2 separate regions of the Homo sapiens genome follow, and region 1 is linked to region 2. A link means that fine-mapping ties the variant in region 2 to the expression of a gene that starts in the linked region. Tissue or cell type: whole blood. Region 2 holds a variant in brackets; the other region holds the start of a gene. All regions are shown on one strand. Distances are between the middles of the regions.

What was found. PIP is the estimated chance that this variant, and not a neighbour inherited with it, causes the effect.
Region 1: it holds the start of PPM1M, and the variant in region 2 is fine-mapped to the expression of PPM1M in whole blood (TOPMed, PIP above 0.99).

Annotation. Positions count from the first base shown.
Region 1 is chr3:52,242,180-52,250,255 of GRCh38, reverse strand. It overlaps PPM1M (protein phosphatase, Mg2+/Mn2+ dependent 1M), which reads right to left and starts at 4,497. Exons shown (of 10, transcript NM_144641.4): 1 at 4,208-4,497; 2 at 3,444-3,561; 3 at 3,028-3,282; 4 at 2,462-2,574; 5 at 2,019-2,103; 6 at 1,803-1,921; 7 at 1,556-1,619; 8 at 1,193-1,300; 9 at 934-1,082; 10 at 1-586. The coding sequence starts at 4,431. The coding sequence ends at 442. RefSeq lists silencers at 4,154-4,213, 4,254-4,623.
Region 2 is chr3:52,294,146-52,302,221 of GRCh38, reverse strand. It overlaps GLYCTK (glycerate kinase), which reads right to left. Exons shown (of 5, transcript NM_145262.4): 5 at 6,965-8,076. It overlaps MIR135A1 (microRNA 135a-1), which reads left to right and starts at 7,914; the gene lies at 7,914-8,003. RefSeq lists enhancers at 1,531-2,400, 2,401-3,271. The variant T/A (reference allele first, on the strand shown) is at 3,825.

The DNA.
Region 1 (8,076 bases), 52 kb after region 2:
ACTTTGGGGGTTGTTGAACACATGCCCTGATAACCATGAATTGGAGACCTGGATCTAAACATGGGCTAGCTACCCATCCTGGCATCTTTGGCTAATACCCTTAGCTTGGGTGCCCCTATCTGAGAATGATACTTTGGGCTGTTCAAGATCCTGTCTGAGGAGCCTCACATGGGTTTCCTAGTTAAGTTGTAAAGTCACTCTGCCAGAGAAGGTTATCACCGCAAAAGGCAGGACCTGGTGGGCTGGGCTCTCCATACACTTCCAGCTCTGACTGCCTGGTATAAATGTTCCTCTTGAGATGGATGTGTGTTGAGGTGGATAGTGAGAGCACTGGGCGGTGGCTAGGGATAGGGCAGGCAGGATTTGCTCTTGGTCACACTGGAGGGATGCCCAGACCACACCCGGGCACTAGAGCAGTTCTGGGATACAGTGTCTGAATCCTCAGTGGTCACTGCTCTCTTGGCCCTGACTGTGCAAGGGAATCACGAACACAGAGACGTCATCGTAGGACACCTGCCCTTCCTCTGTGAGACTGTCTTCCTTTCCCTGTGTGCTGTGTATCAGCATCTGGGCCAGCTTTGAGAACCTGTGAAGACCATCCTGCAGATAGACTTCAGGGGCAGAGCAAAGGGGCAAGGCCAGACCTTAGGAGAACTCACTGCACAAGGCTGGACATGGGGACCCAAGCAATGCAGTCCGACTGTGGACCAAGCAAGCAGCAAGTCTGGGAGGGCCACGGGCTGGACCATGAGAGTCTAAATCCAGGGATTTTCGGAACCCACGGTCTCCCTGCCTCCTCCAAGAAGCTTGAGACAGCCCTGATCCTGGCCAGCTGCCAGCTCATTGTCAGTGCTCTGTCTTCTCAGCCATAACTACTTGGGCTTGCTGCTGGCACCAACCCAGGCCCAGGCAGGTCCCCAGCAGCTACAGTACCTGTGTGGGTCCTCTTGGTTCCCAGGGAGGAAGCTCCGCACCAGCCATGCCACCTGCTCGTTGGACAGTACATCCCAGAGTCCATCAGTTGCCATGACAACCACATCATCCTCCTGTAGCTCCAGCTGGTCCACATCCAGCACAGTCACCTACAAATTAAGCCTGAGGATCCTGCACACTCCCTTCCCGACTCCCACCAGCCTCACTGTCTGCCTTTCTGGGCAGATGGAAGCTGGGTTGGACAGCGTTGCCCCCTTACCTGTGGCACAGAGAGCAAGAAGGGCTTGAGCTGGATGTTTGTGTCCAGGACTCTGAGCTGATGGTCTCCCAGGCCCCGGGAGACAGCCAGTGTTCCTAGTAACCGAGCCTGAGGGAAAGTGAGGTGTGAGGCGATGGCAAACAGCTCCAGCAAATGCACAAGTACCAGGCCCTAGCACTGCAGAGCACACAGGGAGAGGTGGACTGTGGCCCTTGGAAGCCTTGGACTGAGAGAGAAAATTCCTAGTCTCAGAGCAAATCCCAGGCCACCAGCCACAGCTACCAGCAAGAGGCAAAGGAGCTCCCACCTCTGCAGGGGACAATGAAGAGGGATTCTTGGGGTTGAGGAGGACCAGGCACTGACCTGCCTACCCTGTCCATGGATCAGTGGGTACTTGAGATCCGATTTCTCCACACGTTTGTAGCTCCTACCAGGAGCAGAGCCAGCATCAACCCAAGCCCTGTGCCCCATCTCATCTTTCCCCAACTCAGGGCCCAGCTGTCACACCCTCACAGTGCCACCCTGCCAAGGTGGAGGGGGGCCCCAGGCCATACGGCTGGGCCTGGATCCCAGGGGTCTCCCTTCCTACCTGTCCCCCATCCCCACTCACCAGCCACTCATGTGGTGATCCCTGAACAAAACCTTCTGTCCCAAGTCATCCCCCTTCAGCCGCCGAGGGAACTCCAGTCGGGTGAACTCACCAGCCAGAAGCTCAGGATAGACAAAGGCCTGGGGTGGGGAGGCTGCGCTCAGGTCATACTCCTTCTTATGGCCCTGGACCCAGGAGTTGGAGCTTCACAGCCTCCATGCTGCCAAGGGCACCTACCAGCTGCTGGATCCGCTGCCGCTCAGTCTCTGGGGTGAACTCGAAGCTCAGTGGCCGTATCTCATCTCTCCGCACCAAGATGGCCCTGGATTGAGGAGAGAAGGGAGAGGTCTAGGAGGAGGCCTCCACCCTCACCCATGGCCACCCTCCTACCAGTCCCTCCTCCAACCACCAGGATCCAGCTCTGTCCATGATGATCCCTTAAAGCCCTCCATGACTACCTAAGACCTGCAAGGGTGAAGGCTTAGCCCTTTAGCGGGGCCTTTGAGGTCCCTGCCCTCCCCGGCAGCCACTGTCCACACTCGACACATAACAAGTACACACACAATTCAGCCAGTCAATCCTTCCTACTATCCCTCCACTTCCAGCCACCTTTGCTTGTCCCCATTGCTGCTTATGCCCTCCCCATCCCACCCTTGCCCACCCTCCAAGGGGTGACTCACCTGCTATCCCCAGCATTGGCCATGTACAGCTTTCCCTGCAGGGACACAGCCACCAGGGCTGTGCAGCCGCCCATCTGGCCTGAGGCCTCCAGCTCCCGCCCGATCACCTCATCCTGGGGAAAACCGAGGCCACCTTAGCTGCTGCCTGTTCTGCCACCATACTACTTTGTCTCTCAATCCCCACCCTACCCTACAGTTCACTTCTACCAGCAGGCCTGACAGTCCCAGCCCAAAGTCCAGCCATACCTCCAAGATCCCTGCAGTCAGGAGATCTAGACAAGGGAAGTGCTACTCAAAATAGGAAGAGAAACCAGCCCCTGCACCAAGGACCAATAGGGTATTCAATTAGATGATGCAGGTAAAAGCAGTTAGCACACAGTAGGTGCTGGATAAATGAGAGGGGTTATGCTGATAGTGATGGCTGTTAGTAACAATCCAACCAACCCAATCTCATCCTCCCAATCCAAGGATCTGGTGTGATGACCATGGGTATACAGAGATGCCATTTCCTGAGATCCCCGGGGCAAAATCTCCACTTCTTCCCCAGCCAAAAGCCACACACTCACACATTCCTGAAAGGCACTCTCCAATGCCCCGATCACCAAGTCTTCTGCCCTGATGCCCTTTTCCTCCACAAACTGAGGGTCACTGGGGCAGATGCAGCGGCCATTGAGGTGCATGGGGGGCTGAGTGGCCACCAAGCCTTCCACCACGGCCTCCAGCTGCCGGCGCAAGCAGGAGTGCAGGGTGTTGGCAGCCAAGATGGCTGCTGCAGGACCGCCGTGCCCATCGAACAGTGCCCAGTAATGGCCTGTCAGGAACTGCACAGGAAGGGCTCAGTGTCAGCCTCTGCCTGACTTCCCCACTTGTCCCCTGACGCAACCTAACTAGGACCTGGGGCAGCAGGGTAAGAACCTCAGCCTGCAGGTCGTGGCCCCAGCCTGTCGGAGGGATTCCAGCCAAGAACTCAGACTGCACTCACCTCCTCTGGGCACAGGGTCAGCCACTCTTCTTCAGCCCCAAACTCACATCTCCGGATGCACAGCTTCCCACAGGCGGCTTGATCCTCATTGAATTCAGATTTCTCTGCATTGATAATCCTGAGGCCGGGAAATGGTAAGCGACCCTCCAGGGACACACCTATGTCCCCATGGGCACAGGGACCCAAGCCAGCACAGGGAGAAGACCCCTCCCTCTGGGGCAACAGCTCCCCAGTGCTGTCCCTAACACACACTTAGACAACCACGATGTAAGCTTCCTAACTTCACTGGCCTCATGGCTAAGGTAAAAGTCAGGGCCCAGCTCCTCTGGAGCCTACCTGGTGACCCAGGGCTAGACGGTAAGGGTAGGTTGCCATTCCTGCCCCTGTCCTGTCGCAGCCCAAAGCCCTGTCCCATACAGCGCAGGTCATACCCAGGGTGAGATGGTGGGGGTAGAGGGCGAGGGGAAATCTCCAAAGCCCCGAATGCTGGAACTCTACCGAGTCTCTGGGCCTCATCTTGGAAGCCCCTGGGCTGCAGGTCCTTCCCGACCTCCTGTCTTCTCTGAGGGGGAGGTCGGAATCCCAAGGAAAACGCTGGGTCGGGATGACCGGGAAGTTGTCAGGATTCGGAGGTGAGGGCAAGAAGGGGCTGTCCACAGGTGGGTGGGGACTGTCACTCAGCTCCTCCCGCTTTCTAGGCGGGCGCAGGACCCGAAGCGGGTTCAGGCCCGGGCCTGAGCTGGGGGTCGGGGAGGGGCACTCACTCGGCGTAGCCTGCATTCCAGGGTAGCGTGCGTCCTCGTGCGGGGCTGCGCACGGGCCGGGAGTCTGGGCGGCGCGAGGCGTCGGCCGCCCCGGGGCTGGAGCTGGAGCCGCGAAGGAAGCGGGGCCGTCGGTAGGGCACGGGGCTGGCATGCGGCCCAGGCGGCCGCGGCGCGGGGAGCGGCTCCCCAGGCAGGAAGCGGCGCCGGAACCAGCCGGCGGACATGGCGCGGCGGCAGGGGGCTGCCCGCGGAGCGCGGGGCGCTAGGGCTGGGCCGCCCGCGGGAGGAAGAAGCGGGCCGCGGGCGGAGCCGAGGGAGGGGTGCGCCGGCGGGAGGCGGGGCCGGGGGCGCGCAGACGGGAGGCGTCGCCCCCCAGCCCCGACCTCCGCCCGGGAGTGCGTGCGCGGCTGGTTCGCTGACTCCAGGGGTCAACGCTCGCGACCGCCTGAAGAAGCCCACGCCGGCATCAGCCCCATTTGACAAGCAGGAAAACCGAGGCCTAGAGAGGCGAAGTCGCCTGCCCAGCGTCCCACAGTAGCCAGGGAGGACTGTTCACCCACGCTTGCGGGGCACTGGTGGTTGAGAGGAAAAGTCCCCCACACTCCGCGGGGCCAGCGTCGCGCAGATCCTCGGACCTCCTCCTGCTGGGTGGGGACCTGACGCAAGGGGAAGATGGGGACAAAATGAGCTGGGAGGTGTCAGACCCCCACATTGAGTAAATGCCACCGAGCACAGGTTCCTTCAGGCGGCCTCCAATCCTCTCCACCCCGGCCTGCCACCCTCCACCCCAGACGGGCTTAGTGGGCACCTTGGCTTTCCCCGTCCTGAGAGGCTGCTGCCACCCTCGAGGACAGTCTTCCAAATGGCTGTCCCTGCATTCAAGATGTCTTCGCGGAATAGACAGCAGGATCCTTACTGGACTGTGAGTGAGTGACGGACAAGAGAAATCTGTGTGAGTGTAAAGGGGAATCCGTGGTCCCCCAAAGGCTCCAGCTGGTCCGAGTTCAGACCTGGGACGGAGGGAAGTGAAAGACGAGGAACCATCTTGCGGTCTCTCAACCACTGGCTAGCTGTCACCAGGCGGTCAGCCGCAGTGTCCCCTTCACATCTGCGAGTTAACAAAGCACTTTGTCACCCATTTGTCACTCAAGTCCAACTCCCTGTGCAAAAGTGTTACTTTGGCCGGAGGCAGTGGCTCACGCCTGTAATCCCAGTGCTTTGGGAGGCCGAGGCGGGCGGATCACTTGAGGTCAGGAGTTCGAGACCAGCCTGGCCAACATGGTGAAACCCCGTCTGTACTAAAAATTAGCCAAGCGTGGTGGTGTGCGCCTGTAATCCCAGTTACTCAGAAGGCTGGGGCACAAGAATCGGTTGAACCCAGGAGGCAGAAGTTGCAGTGAGCCGAGATGGAGCCACTGCACTCCAGCCAGGGCAACAGAGCGAGACTCAGTCTCAAAAAAAAGAGTGTTACATCATATGGACGATTCTGAGGCCCATGGAGGGGAAGTCTTGGACACCCAGGGCTGTACTATTTCCATTATGACAATGCAGCTGACTCAATCCTCGCCCCCAGGGCACTTCTCTTCCCCTTTCCTCCTCCAGGAAGCCAGGGCTTGCCAATTAAAAGCGGCTAAGGCTCCACAGCCCAGTGCCTGCATATGAGCTGTATGAGGAGTCCACCTTCACCTCCACTCCCTAGCCCAGGTAGACGCTCAGTAAGCCCTACTTCCTCCCAGCAGCTAGTCCTGCCCCAGTGGGAGTTCCTCGGGCCCAAGAAGGAAGGTTCTTAGGGCAGGGACCTGTGCCCAACACCCACTCCCTCCGATGACTCAGTCCCAGACCAGCCTGGGGGCTGATTGACTGAACCCACAGTGTCTGCTGGGGCCACACTGGGCACAGGAACGCAGTGCTAATGGAGACAAGCCAGGCCTCTGCCCACCAAGCCCCCTGCAGTGATGGTAGCAGTTCTGGTGGATGCTGCTTCATCCAGCTGGCAAGAGGATAGGGGCGATGTCAGAGAAAGTTTCCCAAAGGACCTCTGAGCTGTGAATTGTCACTGTGACAGAACAGAAAGGTACCAGGGTGGGGCAGGCCCAATTCAGTCTATGGGGCCACTTCCTCACCCTCACCAGTTGATGCCTCAGAGGATTTTAAAGTCTAAAATTGGACAAAACAAAGTGCATACACTCTATTCCCCAACCCACCCCTGGGTGGGGGAAAGCCTTGTCCTGAAGTATTTTCACAGAAGCTCTGGGCAACCAAATGTCATAGGCAGTCTGTTGCACAGCTTAGCCATTGTCTATTTTCAGAGCCATGTGGAACCACATGGCAATCCCATCCTCTCTGTTCCAAGGTGGCCTGAGTGTTCCTTCAGTGCTACCAGGCTCTTCTGGCTTCCTGGGCTCCTAAGCGCCTCACTCTTGCCTGGATCTTAAGCCTATGTCTCTTGGTTTACTCCCTCATTTTGCTGAAGTGCATCCTTCAACAACTTTCCAACAAAGGGTGACTGGGAGGTACTTTCCTGAGAGATGTTATTTATCTATCTTTTTCTGTGAATGGTCTGTTTGTATCCTTTGCCACACTTTCTACTGGGCCATTTGTCTTTTTCTTTTTCTTTTTTTTTTTTTTGATACAGAGTTTCGCTCTTGTTGCCCAGGCTGGAGTGCAATGGTGTGATCTCGGCTCCCCATGACCTCTGCCTCCTGGGCTTAAGTGATTCTCCTGCCTCAGCCTCCTGAGTAGCTGAGATTACAGGCATGTGCCACCACGCCTGGCTACCATTGGTCTTTTTCTTATTGACTTATGAGAGCTCTTTATATATTAGAGAAATCAGCTCTTTATTTTGAAATGAGTTACAAGTATGCTGTTTGTAACAAGTTACAGTTTGTTATTTGTGTTTTGGCTGTGATGGTGGCTTTTTCCATATAGACTTTATTTTTTATGCAAATGGATTATTGATCTTTTCATAAAGGAAAATAAAAATTTCAGGACCCCCAAATTTGTTATGCTAAAGGGAGAGTTAAGCTTGGAGACTGAGCCACACAACACTGGCATTCCTTTTTTTTTTTTTTTTTTTTTTTTTTTTTTTGAGATGGAGTCTTGCTCTGTCACCCAGGCTAGAGTGCACTGGCACAATCCCGGCTCACTGCAACCTCCGCCTCCCGAGTTCAAGCAATTCTCCTGCCTCAGCCTCCCCAGTAGCTGGGATTACAGGCACCCGCCACCATGCCCAGCTAATTTTTGTATTTTTAGTAGAGATGGGGTTTCGCCATATTGATCAGGCTGGTCTCGAACTCCAGACCTCAGGTGATCCACCCGCCTCGGCCTCCCAAAGTGCTGGGATTACAGGCGTGCTGGGATTACAGGCGTGCTAGGATTACAGGCGTGCTGGGATTACAGGCGTGCTAGGATTACAGGCATGAGCCACCACACCCAGCCTTTTTTTTTTTTTTTTAATTTTATTCCGGCAACACTTCATTCTATGCTGCAGAACTAATGTTCTCCAAAACTGTCATTCTTTTCCCAAATGGATACCTGTTACCTTGCAACCTTGTGTCAAAATATTATGCATTAACCAGATCCCCACAAAAAGGCAAAAAGCCTCATGAATCTCCAGGTGACTGCAATCACAAATTGCTCAGCAGTAAATTCTTTGCCAGTCCCTAAAACTTTCAGGATGTATATCCTCCTATAAAACAAGGACATGTCAACTGCAACTTTAGGTCTGCAACCTAAACCTAACTCCTAAAACCAAAGTCTGTTAAATTTCACACTGACAATGTCAATTACAAGTTTATCTGCCCAGGTGCAGAACAAGGATAAGATGAGATCAATCATTCCTCCACCTAACCTGAGACCTCTGCATAATT
Region 2 (8,076 bases):
CTAAATAATACCAAACTTTTTTTTTTTTTTTTTTTTTTTGAGACAGTCTTACTCTGTTGCCCAGGCTGGAGTGCAGTGGCACAATCGTGGCTCACTGCAGCCTCACTCTCCTGGGCTCTGGTGATCCTCCCACCTCAGCCTCCCGAGTAGCTGGGACTACAGGTGCACATGATCACACCCGCCTAATTTTTGTATTTTTTGTAGAGACAGGGGTCTCACCATGTTCCCCAGGCTGGTCCCAAACTCCTAACCTCAAGCAATCCACTGGCCTCAGCCTCCAAAAGTGCTAGGATTACAGGCATGAGCCACCAAGTCTGGCCTAAATACCAAAATTCTTTTTTTTTTTTTTTGAGACAGAGTCTTGCCTTGTCACCCAGGCTGGAGTGCAGTGGCATGATCTCGGCTCACTGCAAGCTTTGCCTCCCGAGTTCACGCCATTCTCCTGCCTCAGCCTCCCAAGTAGCTGGGACTACAGACGCACGCCATCACACTCAGCTTTTTTTTTTTTTGTATTTTTAGTAGAGACAGGGTTTCTCCATGTTAACCAGGATGGTCTCAATCTCCTGACCTCGTGATCCGCCTGCCTCGGCCTCCCAAAGTGCTGGGATTACAGGCGTGAGCCACTGCGCCCGGCCAATACCAAAATTCTTAACCATGACCTTTGGGTGGGAGTTGGGAGGAATGAGAACAGCCATCTGAAGGAGGGTCTCCGGATGGGACTCCAACCTACTTGGGGGTACTGGGGGTGCAGAAAGAACGCAGCCCTGTGTCAGGGACCGGTATGGAAGCCTCAGTAGGGCTGGAGCCCCATCATGCCCCTTCCGAGCAGATCAGCACAGACCAGCTGGTCAGGTGGACTCCATCCCTGCCCTGTCCTCACGGAGCTGTAGGGAGAGTCCCAAAGGCAGGTGGTGGGGCTGGGGCCTCCAACAGCTGGGTCCTCTCATATCACTTAGGGCCCAACAGCACACAGTCTCCCAAGTGTGCCAGGTGCCACAGCACGGCCATCCCGCTCTCCCAGCTCCACCCCGCCTGCCTGCCTGCCACCATCTCCACAAACATATGCTGCAGCTCCACACCCGGGAAACACCACATGCTCGCTTTGGTGGGCAATGGCTCCCTCCCCGCTTGCTCACTTGCTTCCCAGGACCCCAGGCCCAGCACAGCCCCCTACCCCACCTCAAGCCCTGGGCTGGCCCAATTCCTAAGGTGGCCTTGGTCAGTCCCCAGATCTCAAGCTCCCAGTAGGTGACATCTGCTCATTCCTTGCCTGTCCCAGGCCTTCATTCATTCCACATAATGTGGTCTGGGATCCCGTGGGCTGGCTCCAGAGACAGAGACAGATAGGAAGCAATCCTTTCAAATGTCTGCAACTTACTCAAATGAGTAAGAAAGAAAATATGTATGTCTATACACACACACACACACACACACACACACACACACACACACACACAGAGCAAACGGAGCACAATATTCACAGTAGTTGAACATATCCCCAAAAGAGCACGTGTGTCTTTTGTACTATCACTATTCTGGCAACTTTTCTGTAAGTTTGAAATCATTTATAAATAAAAAATAAAGAAGAATAAGGAAAGAAAGAAGGAAGGAAGGTCCTTTCCCTTCTCCGAGCTCTAGGCTATAAGAAGAGACAGCTGGACAAGTGGCAGCCAAGTCACTGTACCCCTGCTGGGTGGGGCCAGGAGGGATTCCCTGAGGTGGTGATAACGGCTTGGGGAGGCAGGGTCTAAGGGGCACACACCTCTGACCCTTGTATGGAGGGTGGCACTCAGGGGCTGACTCTCTGGGAGTCTCCCTGTCACAGCTTTAGGCAAGCCCTCGCTCCCTCCCCTTCTCCTACTCTCCAAATAACGTGCTCTGGGAGTCTGAGATAAGAAAGGGAACTTCCCTTGGTCACAAGGTGTGGGAGGGTGGCTGGAACTTCTGTGCCTTTGAGTGTAAGAGGAGGCTGAACTGGCCCGGGGGCTGTGCCTGGTGGGGTGAGAGGGTTGGGACGGCCCTGCTCAAGGCCATCCTGTCCTCCCTCCCAGTGAACGAACGCTCACACAGACTCACCGAGCTGACTTCCCCAGGCAGTGCCCTTGCCTGTCACAGCAGCACTTGGCAGCAGGAGGGCAGCAGCAGGGAAGTGGCTCATTATTTCATCCTTCATTAGCTCGGCATTAGGCAGCCTGAGAATTGTGGGGTGTGGAGTGGGAGCCTCTGGTTCGGCGGTCTTGCAGCTCCGTGCCCACCCCTTGCAGCCTCCTTCCCCCCACCCGCTCTCTCTCCCCTGCTTCCCTACCTCTTTGATCCCCACTTCTCTCCTCCCTCCCTGTGCTCCCTACCCTGCCCTCCTCCCTGGGATGGAGGCAGGGCACACACTCTCCCTAAGAGGGGGCTTCCCCTACCCAGTTCTCAGTCACAGGATAGGCCCCATCAACCATCCCCTTCCCGAAAAGACAGTGACACCAGCATCCTCATGTGTGGTCAATCATGGTGTGTGTCCCGGTTGTTCTGAGCCCTCAAAGAATGACTGGGACCCCTGCCTGGCCTCACAGCCCATGTCCTCTCCTCTCCACCTCAGGCCGCCACTTCAGAGCCTGGACCGCCCCAGAGTGTATCTGCCCCCCACCCCCACTCCAGGAAGCTCTGGCTGGGATGCTCAGGGCTGGGGCACCCAGGGGTCAGCAGAAGCCGATTCCTCCATTCAGATGCCGTTGTTTCTTTTCACGTCTTTGTTGCCTTGCCACTGGCCGCAGTCCTCCCAGCCAGCCCACCAGCCCAGCCCCTTACCCAACGGCTGGCAGGTTCCCCTCCCTGCCAGTCCCCTTCATGCATGGCCTTCTGCCATTCAAGTCCTACTGGTCTCCCCTGAGTCCAGAGCCTGGCATGGGACGGGGTGGGGCCCCTCTGCCCAGCTCAGCCATCAGCCACCAGCCCCCTGCAACCTGCCTTTCACCCTGCTCCTCTCCTGCCCACGCCCCTCACTTGCCCTCTACCTCCTCACCCTGTCCCTGCTCTCCCGCCCCTCTAACAGTCTCCCCACTCTCAGTCTGGCCCCTCACCTCCCCTGCCCCCTCCCCATTTCCTCTCCCCTCCTCTACTGGCCCTTTAGTCCCTGGGTGTCAGGCTTTATCTCTCGGTGGGCGGCAGGCTCGTTGTTCTCCCCTCCCCTCTCCTCTTCTCTCTCATCCTCTCCCTTCTCTTCCCCCTCCAGCCTCCACTCCTTCGCCCGCTCACTCACCCTCTCCCTCTCCCGCTGCCCCCCCTTTCTCCCCCACCTCTTTGTTTCAGCTGAGAACCAGCTCCTCGGGACAGTTCCCACACTGCAGTGCCTCTGGTGAGGAGACAGCGCCACTGAGGTGAGCCTTGGGGATCTGGGGACACAGGCATGGGGTGGCCGGAGCCCTGGGGGGCAGGCAGATGGGGAGAATGCTTCTCTGCCCCAGGCAGTGGGGAGCAGCAGTGGACTGCCAGCTTCAGGTCCCCCGGGGGTCAGCAGGAGTGGGAGGCAGAGGGGTGGCCAGTTAGCCGAGAGGGACAAGGCTGGCCGGGAGCTGGCAGGCTCCGTTCCTGCCTGGGTGCCTGGCTTCTGTGGGTGGCCCTGGGCTGAGAGAGACCCTCAGGGGGACCTGAGAGGGTGGGCGGGGGCTGGGCTGCCTGGAACAGTGTATGCCCAGTCCTGGAGTCCAGGGCTCTGACCCTGACTCTGACTGGGCTGCTGCTATGGGGTTGCTGGGTGCCAGCAGCGGCACCGTCCAGGGGACTGTGACCCTCACAAGTGCCTGTGCTAGCAGGGGGGTTGGCGGCTGGCTGGAATG[T/A]GCTGGGGCTACTCCCACTGCCCAGGTGGAGAGTCTGAGTGGAGGGAGAGATCTTCCCCCTGCCATAGGCTCACAGGTTTTACTCCAAGCTACTGATCCCCAGACCCATAGACCCACATGGTAAAGACAGGCACTTCTCCCTCCCCTAGGGGTCTTTGACCAGCTCCCTCCAGACAGCATCCCTAGAAGAGCTTTGCCCAGAGTTGCAAACAGCAGGGTTTCAACCCAGAGCCTAGATATTCCTGCAGTCAGCTTCCTGGAACTGGGCTGGACAGGGAGGAACGGGGGCTCTGTGGATAGGGGTGGGGAAAGCAGGTGGAGACAGAGGCCTGGCTCCAATGAGGCTACAAGTGTGATTTTTGGAGACAACCAAGGGCCACAAGGAGATCTTGAGACTCTAAAGCTGTGCAGGTGGGTGGGAATGATCTGAAGGGGCAGAAGCCAAGTGCCAAGGGCCCCACCCCCTTCTCGGCTGGTAGCGGGGATGGAGAGGCAGGGCTGGAGAAATGTATGGCTCACACCTTTCCAGGGAGGTGGGCAGGGCGGCTCTGCTGGCTGCTAGTGGAGGAAAAGAAAAGGCCAGCCCAGACGTGAAGGGACACCAGGGAAGACCTTCTCAATGGGATGCATTTTGGGGGTCTAGCCTCTGGCTCTCTGGTTGGGGCACAGCCAAGTCCTACAGCTCCCTGGCTCCCCAAGGAGGCAGTGGTGGGCCAAATCCTGGTGAGTAGTGGTCCCATGAGGCGGAGCTGCTAAGGGCAGTGGCCTCATAGGACTGGGCAGATGGGGCACTTGTTCCAGGGGCCAACTGTTTTGCCCTCTTCCCTTGGCTAGAACTTCCTCATCTGAGCAAGGCGACAGCTGCACCTGCTCCCACCCCTGCCCCCTAGAAACCCCCGGATGGAAGCAGCATGTCTAGAGAGGTGGAATCAGAGCTGTGGGCACGAGCTGGTGCCAGGCTGAGTGTCCACCCCCAGCCCACCCTCCTCCAGCCACTACAAACCAGCTGAGTCAGGGGAAGTGGAGAGCAAAGCCTCAGAACTGGCCCTAGCGGTTACTGGGGAGATGTCTGGCCCACAGCCTTGGGGAGAAAGCCCATCTCTCCTGGGCTGGGCACAGCTCACGACAGCCCCATGGTCCTATAGCTGATGTGGCAGCCTGCCTAGGTCATTGGCTTCCCTATCATCCAGGGTGTGTGTGTCCCCCACCCCTGCATACCCCCTCCCTTCCCCTAGCATATCCCAAATCCTCTTACCTAGCTACGGATTCTGGCCTGGGGTTAAGCCAGTCCTCCCTCACCTCAGTCTGGGCCTCATCATGCCCCTCGCACATGACCCAGACCCAGAGGGAGGCAGGTTGCCCTACCCATTTTCCAGAGACATTAGGGGGCTCTCTTCCAGGCGGCTCAGCTCACTCTGACTCCAGGCGATCATCCATCAGCTCCGTGATCTCCCAGGGCACTGTACACCCTACTGGCCATTAAAGACTCAGATACCATTCCCTGCTGGTGCCTGCCTAGTGCCAGAGGCCAGCAGGTTGCTCACTCAGCCTCAGTCAGTGAGCGCCAAGGTCCCGCTGGCTCTAACTCTGGTCCTACCATGGGAGAAGAGGGCCTCCCTGAGCCAAGAGCTCCCTGAGATTCCCCTTGGAAGAGGCCAACACCTCTACCTTCTTTCTCTCCCTCCCTGAGCTCCCCACTTCCACAGAGCTTTCCCGCACAGATCCACCTGCCGCTGATACCTTCCTAAAGAGATGATAGGGCAAGGATGTTTTCCCCATTAAACAGATGAGAAAACAGGCCTGGAGAAAGGAAGGTGGGAAGGCCAGGACTCGGACTTACCACCTGACTCCTACTCCAGTGCTCCTTCCAAGCCACTTAAATGCCACCCTCGTGAGATCCTACATGAGTGGGGTCCCTATGCCCACCAAACTGTCCACTAGCTGCCCAGCCTCTGCCCCCACAAATCCTCAACACCCTGAGGCATTCCCAGAGACAGATGGGCTCAGTTACTCCCAACAGTGTTTGAGCCAGGGCTTTCGGCCTTGGTTCCAAAGCAGGCATCTAAAGGGTTCCCTGGGCTGGCTAAAGGCTTTGGAGCTGAGGCTGCATAGGGGAGGTGGGAGAGGGTCTCAGAGCCTGGTAATGCACCTCTCCTATCTGCAACCCCTTCCATCTCCTTGCATGCCCCCAACCCCCGCCCTCTGCTGTAAGGAAGCTGGCTCTCAGCATTAAAGTCCCAAAACAGCTTCATGACATTATTCCCTGCCAAAATCTTCATGAGGTTTGCCACTGATGTCAATGTGAAGTCAACTCCCTCGGCCAGGCACACTAGCCTCTGCCAGTCTTCTGGGCCTTCTTGCCCAACTTGCTCATTGTATCCCCTACACTCTAACTACACCTGTGTGTCTCCACCCTGGGATGGGGCACAGCAGAGCTCAGAGACTGGCTGTGGGCTGCACTACACATACACATGCTTATACATATATTCATGCACACGCACACATGCACACACACACAGATGTGCATACAGATGCAGACACACATTTATGTAGAAGCCCACCACTCAACTGCGCATGGTTTTCTGCCAAATCACACACACAATGGAGCTGTCCCTCTGAGACAAGAAGGTTCCAACACATCTGCTGTGTGGATCCCTGGAGAGGCCAAGCATGGTTGTGTCGCCATCCCAAGCCCTTGAGGGGCAGTGGGGAAGCAGAAGTAGATCCCCTGGATCTGGCTGAGCCCTTGCTTGGCCCCAGGGTATCTGAGCCCCAGAGAGTGGCAGAGGATAGTCAAGCAGGTTCCAACTAGGTTCTTACCCTGGTTCTGTGGCCCTTATGTGGGACTGTACAGTCCCCAGTAAGCCACCTTCTCTCTCTGAATCTCCAACTATAAATCAAACGCTTGGGACTAGCTGACACTGAAGGGCTGCCCAGGCCCACTGCCCCACTGCTCTTGGCTCATGCCAAGTGCAGAGAATGGAGAGGCCTGTGAGGGTTGCTATAGCCAGCAGGGCCAGACACCCTCCATGGTGAAATCCTCCAGCTGGGCCAGGGGAAGCTTCAGAAAATGACGATGAGGTGGGCACGAGGGCAGCAGCAGCCGGAAGAAACAGAAGCCAAGAGCAAGGGACGGGCACTTCAATGATCCAAAATTGACATTTATGGAGCAAGTAATGAATCCTATCAAAACATTCACTGTGCAGGGTTTTCTCATCTCAGCATTTAGACTGTGGCCAAATACATCCTTTCTTATCTCTGGGGTATCCAGTGAGCAAATCTAACGGGTTAGGCTCACAGACCATTTGGCCCTATGGGGTCCAATCCGGGCCCTGGCCTCCCAGCCCCTACAAACAGAAGTATAGGGAAGGGGTCAATGTAGAGCAGGGGGAACCTCCTGCAAGATCCTATCCATACCCAAAGCCCTCAGCAGGGATGCAGGGAGTCATGTGCCCTGTACTAAGTATCTATGTGTACACTCAGAGATGCATTCCCACTCTGAGTACGCCAACACCAACGTCTGTATACTCACACACCTACCACCCACACACACACTGGGGACATGGCTGCCAGGCCCTCAGCTCCTGCAGCCCCTGCCCCAGCTCTCCTATCCTGCTTTTGCCTGGAACTTGGAACCCAGTGCCAATACTCATGCTCCCAAGAGCAAGGACTGAGGCAGGAACAGGCTACATGTAGACGCTGCCAGAGGAGCACCACGGCACAGGATCATGCGAGGATCACCATAACCCCAGAGACTGTGACCCTAGTCAGCAGGAACTCCATGCCAGCACAGAAGGAAAGGAAGCGGTGCCTGCGCATCCCAGTGGGGTGCAAGCTCCCCTTTTCCTAAACCTCCCTGGTCCCCAGAGCCCGCTTACCACGTTTACCTCCCTCCCAATCTCCAGCCTGCCCTGTGTGAGCCAGGCCCCCAGGTCATGAACTGTCTGCAAGCTAGGCTGCCCAGAGCCCAGGTGGGGAAGGGAAACCCTTCCCAGGGGAAAGTCCTGCCAGCCCTGGCCCAGGGCCCCTCCACACCCTCAGGGAGGAGGGGAGGGTTGGGGTGGAAGAAGTGCCTGCAAGAGCAGCCCCAGGCCTCGCTGTTCTCTATGGCTTTTTATTCCTATGTGATTCTACTGCTCACTCATATAGGGATTGGAGCCGTGGCGCACGGCGGGGACAGCCAGCGGAGGGTTCTGACACTGAGCAAGGGGGCTCAAAAGGAGGCAGGACAGTGGCACCTCCCTCTCTCAAC